Regions from separate parts of the Homo sapiens genome. Here region 2 is linked to region 1. The links come from fine-mapping of genetic effects on gene expression. A gene starts in region 1. The other region holds a variant in brackets. All regions are shown on one strand. Distances are between the middles of the regions.

What was found. PIP is the estimated chance that this variant, and not a neighbour inherited with it, causes the effect. A credible set is the group of variants that fine-mapping cannot tell apart.
Region 2: its variant is the best candidate, but not a certain one, in a credible set for the expression of BCL2L15 in subcutaneous fat (TwinsUK, PIP 0.82).

Annotation. Positions count from the first base shown.
Region 1 is chr1:113,886,065-113,888,977 of GRCh38, forward strand. BCL2L15 (BCL2 like 15) reads right to left here and starts at 1,517. Exons shown (of 4, transcript NM_001010922.3): 1 at 1,185-1,517; 2 at 473-594. The coding sequence starts at 1,311. The region is part of intron 3 of AP4B1-AS1 (AP4B1 antisense RNA 1); the gene reads left to right.
Region 2 is chr1:114,649,676-114,652,588 of GRCh38, forward strand. All of the region lies in intron 2 of DENND2C (DENN domain containing 2C), which reads right to left. Among named protein-coding and RNA genes, the nearest start is that of DENND2C, 19 kb to the right of the region's middle. The variant T/TAC (reference allele first, on the strand shown) is at 1,601.

The DNA of each region.
Region 1 (2,913 bases):
AAATAGATGGGCATGGTAGCACTTGCCTGAAGTCCCAGCTACTCAGGAGGCTGCAGTGGGAGGATCGCTTGAGCCCAGGAGGTGGAGGCTGCAGTGAGCTGAGATCACACCACTGCACTTGAGCCTGGGTGACACAGTAAGACCCTGTCTGAAAAAAAAAAAAAAAAAAAAGATACTATACTTTGCCAAGAATAAAGTGTTATAAATGTGCTCTGTGCACACTAAGCACAACAGCTGTGATGAAGACCAAGTAGAGACAAACTGAAGGTTCATCAGCCTATGCCCAAAATTTTCCATCTCTGTACCACTTAGGTTTTAGCAATTGGAGAATTCTTGCTATACTTCCTTGAAATATAAGCACCCAAATATTTTCATAGAACATTCCTAGTCACTGTAGTATGGGAGTAGTAAGAAAAGGAAGTTTGAAATAGAAAAAAAAGCAGCAAACAATAGCATGAAGTAGAAACTTGACCTGTCCCTTAATGGTTTCTGCAATGACGTTTTTGGCAGAAGCTTCCAATTCTCCGTTGAACTGGTCACCCAACATCCGAAGGCGACCAGCAATGATAGCCACATCAAAAGAACAAGGCTCTCCTATGACAGAGGGAACACATTTGTTACAATGCTTGAAGCAATGGCAAGTCCCAGGAATCTGGGCAATGAGAAAAATTTGTCTTGTCTTTTAAATAATTTTCATATCATGATCTCCCAAGAGCTTAAATGTTCTGTCAACACCAATAGTCAGAAAGTTTCCCTTCATTGAGAACCTCTTTCGCTTTAGGTGTTACTGAAAGCTTAGAGTTTGCCTTTTGAAACTTAAAGGAAATAAATAAAATATACTGTTTTTTTTTTTTTGAGACCGAGTCTCTGTCGCCCAGACTGGAGTGCAGTGGCGTGATCTCAGCTCACTGCAACCTCCGCCTCCCAGGTTCAAGCAATTCTCATGCCTCAGTCTCCCATGTAGCTGGGACTGCAGGCATGAGCCACCACACCTGGCTAATTTTTCTACTTTTAGTAGAGATGGGGTTTCACCACGTTGGCCAGGCGGATCTCAAACCCCTGACTTCAGGTGATCCACCCACCTTGGCCTCCCAAAGTGCTGGGATTACGGGAATCAGTCACTGCGCCCGGCTGAAAACATACTCTTATTGACCTGCAATCACCGCCTAGGGCAGGAACCTTACCTGAATCTACTTCATCTACACAGCATAGGTTCCGGCTGGCAACCTGCAATGTTGGGCTCAAGAAGTCCATGAGTAGAGTGTTCACAATGCATTCCGTTTGTTCCTCAAAAGTTTGGGAGCTCTTCATTTTAGATGTTTGCTGTCAAGTTTTGCTTTTCCACGAAACAAGCAGTTTTCAGCCCAGCAGGAAGTTAAAAACACTGGTAAATCAACAAATGTTTCTACCTCTTGTAGTTTCCTGACATGTAATCCTGGAACTTTTCCCACTAGCTTTCTTCAAACACAGCTGCTCAGAAAGGTGGGACTTCTCAGAAGGATTACCTACTTGGAACTGGGGAGACTTTAAAGACTTTAGGTTCTCTATCTCAGACCACACCCTAACCACATAAAATTAATGCTTAACTTTTATCGTTAGGTAGCCAACCTAGAACTGAAATAGAGTTCAGGAAGAGCCTCTGGAGTAATTTTATTAAGAAATACTTCCTCGACTTCTTAGGTCCTGCACATGGTATAATTTGAAGGAAGGTTTTGAAGTTACAGTGGACCAGCGTTCAACTTCTGTTTATGGAATTTATTTGCCATAATCATATAATAATTACTTACTGAACAAGGAACTATAGTTGGCACTACAAGTAACATAGAAAAATGATACAGGCACAGTTACTGTGCTCATGAAGCTTACACTTCAGCAGAAATGACAGATATTAAATGAGTAATCGCATTGTTATTTGTGCTATTGAGATCAGTGCACTTTGATCAGTGAAGTGTAACAGGGAATCAAGCCTTTGATCAGTTTAATAGGGAAACAAACCTAGGGGACTGGGAAGGCTTCCTTAAAATAGTACCATCTGACATGAGCTCTGAGGAATAAGTAGGCATTCATTATGCAAAAAGGAGGCATAACACTATTCTAGGCGGAGAGGTAGCAGATATAAAGTCTGGGAAGGTTAAAAAAAAACAACTTGGAATTATAAATGGGGACAACAGAAAATATTTCATAGATAAATTATGAGGATTAAATAAGATAACATGCGGAATGGCCTAGCACTGTTTGGCATACAATAAATGTTAAATGTCCTCCTTTTAGCCCAAGACATAATGACCAGGAGGAAAGAGATCTGAGATTCTCTGTCTAGCAAAAGGATTTTCCTAACAGGGTTGGACTCCATCATTGTTTTAAGAGATCTCATGATTGGACACTTATCTGTAGTGGTTGCCTTCTTAACGTAGCTAAACCTAGATTTTGGGTCTGGGTCTCAGAAGCAGCCATCAAACCTATCAGCAAACTTACCACTCAACCTGTCTGACCTGGTGAAGTTATTAATATTAACAGCTCCAACTAATAAAAGAGTCAAGCATAGGCCGGGCATGGTGGCTCATACCTGTAATCCCAGCACTTTTGGGAGGCTGAGGCGGGCAGATAACCGGAGGTCAGGAGTTCACGACCAGCCTGGCCAACATGGCAAAACCCATCTCTACTAAAAAATACAAAAATGAACTGGGCGTGGTGGTGCATGCCTGTAATCCCAGCTACTAAGGAGGCTGAGGCATGAGAATCGCTTGAACCTGGGAGGCGGAGGTTGCGATGAGTCGATATTACGCCACTGCACTCCAGCCTGGGTGACAGAGCAAGACTCTGTCTCCAAAAAAAAAAAAAACAAAAAAAGATTCAAGCATAAACAGTAAGTCAGTTGTTCAGAATGGAATTTCTATCTTGCAAAATATCAAA
Region 2 (2,913 bases), 760 kb after region 1:
ATAAAACCTAGTTTTTAAACCACAAATTCAGACTTGGTAAATTCTTAGCAAGACACTGAAAAATAAAGGCAGCAAAATCATTACTAAAGTATTCAAAGGTTGAAGAAATTTTCCAAAAGCTAAAAAGAAGCAATAAAAAAAAGTTTTAAAAGTCACAAAGTAATACTACTACTTTTCAGAAATTTTGAAAATAGAGGAAACAGGAGAAAAATACCCGTAAGTCTACTACCTCCAACATGGTCACTGGGACATTTTGGTGTATCTTCTGTTTTTTAAGCACATTTTTATACAGATGCAATTACAGTGTATACATAATTGTATCCTGCTTTTTTTCATTCAGAGTTATATAAAATGATGCAATTTTGGCCAGACTCGGTGGCTCATGCCTGTAATCCCAGCACTTTGGGAGGCCGAGGTGGGTGGATCACCTGAGGTGAGGAGTTCAAGACCAGCCTGGCTAACGTGGTGAAACCCTGTTTCTACTAAAAATATAAAAAATTAGCCAGGCGTGGTGTTGCACGCCTGTAATCCCAGTTACTCAGGAGGCTGAGGCAGGAGAATCGCTTGAACCCAGGAGGCGGAGGTTGCAGTGGGCTGAGATCATGCCATTGCACGCCAACCTGGGCAATAAGAGCGAAATTCTGTCTTAAAAAAAAAAAAGATGCAATTTTCAAGAATTTCAGCAATTTTCAAGAATTTCAGACTATGGCTGGGTGCGGTGGCTCACGCCTGTAATCCCAGCACTTTGGGAGGCCGAGGCGGATGGATCACGAGGTCAGGAGATCGAGACCATCCTGGCTAATGCAGTGAAATGCTGTCTCTACTAAAAATACAAAAAAAAAAAAAAATTTAGCCAGGCATAGTGGCGGGCGCCTGTAGTCCCAGCTACTCAGGAGGCTGAGGCAGGAGAATGGCGCAAACCCAGGAGGTGGAGCTTGCAGTGAGCTGAGATTGCGCCACTGCACTCCAGCCTGGGCGACAGAGCGAGACTCCGTCTCAAAAAAAAAAAAAAAAAAAAAAGAATTTCAGACTACAGACATAACAGGCTTTCTTAAGAAACACACATTCATAACAATTGTACAATGTAACTTTCTATTTCATTCTAAAGCTTAAAATCCAGAAGATGTATTTCTCAAATTTTCAAATGACATTACAAAATTATATATCCTTTGCATATTTTATCTCATTTGACAATAAAAGAGCAACAAAAGTAAAACTGCAGTAACATGGACATTAAATACATCTCGTATCCTTCACAGTGCCATTTAAAACACAGTAAGGGCATTAGCTGGGTGTGGTGGCAAGCGCCTGTAGTCCCAGCTACTTGGGAGGCTGAGGCAGGAGAATCACTTGAACTCAGGAGGTGGAGGTTGCAGTGAGCCGAGATCGTGCTGCTGCACTCCAGCCTGGGCGACACAGTGAGACTCGAGACTCCATCTCAAAACAAAACAAAACAAAACCAACAACAAAACATAGTAAGGGCTAGGCATGGTGGCTTACACCTGTAAACCCAGCACTTTGGGAGGCCAAGGCAGGAGGATCACTTGAGGCTAAGAGTTTGAGACCAGCCTGGGCAACACAGTGAGACCTTCCCTACACA[T/TAC]ACACACACACACACACACACACACACACACGCCAAGTATGAAACATGTGCCTGTAGTCCCAGATACTCAGGAGGCTAAGGCAGGTGGATCACTTGAGCCCAGGAGCTGGAGGCTACAGTGAGCCATGATTGCACCACTGCACTCCAGCCTGGGCAATGGAGCAAGACTGTCCCTAAAAATAAAAAATAAAAGTAAAAAGTGCCTGTAATCCCAGCACTTTGGGAGGCTGAGGTGGGCAGATCACCTGAGGTCAGGAGTTCGAGACCAGCCTGGCCAACATGGTGAAACCCCATCTCTACTAAAAATACAAAAATTAGCTGGGCATGGTGGCATGTGCCTATAATCCCAGCTACTTGGGAGGCTGAGGCAGGAGAATGACTTGAAGTTGGGAGGCGGATCCTGCAGAGCTGAGATCACGCCACTGCACTCTAGCCTGGGTGACAGAGTGAGATTTTGACTCAAAAAAGAAAGAAAAAGGAAAAGTTATTTCCAACTCTTCTTCCTGAACAATTTGGCCCTAATTAGGCAAAGCAGAGTAAGTAAGGCAGGCACACTTGCCTCATGCTAAGGAGCAAGGTAAGGAGAGCATCTGTGTAGGAGGGCTGCCTACTGTGGAAGTATCAGAGCCTAAACAAGGTAAGGAGTGCAGTCCCACAGAGGGGTAGCCCAGCATGGGATGTTAGAGCTTCAGCAGAATGAGGAGGGTATCCAGGCTGATAGATGGCCTGGTGCGGGGTTGTAAGAGTCAGGACAAGGTGAGGAAAGCATCCTAGGAGGGAGCCGACTGGCACAGAGTATTGGCAAGTGGACCTTGGGCTTGATTTCAGCTCCTTGGCTGGATGCCTGTGTGTAATGCACAAACTACCCAATCAAACACAGCACCCTGACTGAATGCTATGCAACTATTAAAAAGGATGAGGTAGAGATCTGTATGCAGATATGCAAAGATGTCCAAAATAAAAGTGGGGAAAAGCAAGTGGAAAAACAATTTTCAATACACTTTTTAAAAAGGATATACATATATCTATATACCTGCTATACATACATCTATATACAAGCCCTCCCCTCACACATGCACTGCAATAATGTGAATTTGAAAGTTACACAATTGACTCTTATTCTCTGTCCAGCCCCCTTTTCTCAAATGGGGGGTGGGCAGGCTATAGTTCTCTTCCTCAAATTGTAGGAGATGGGTAGTTAGGAAGCAATCATTTTCTGACCATTTGAACTTTTTCAATTCAGTATAGTAATCCCTTGGTATGTGTGGGGATTGGTTCCAGGACCTCCTTCGGATACCAAAACCCATAAAGGC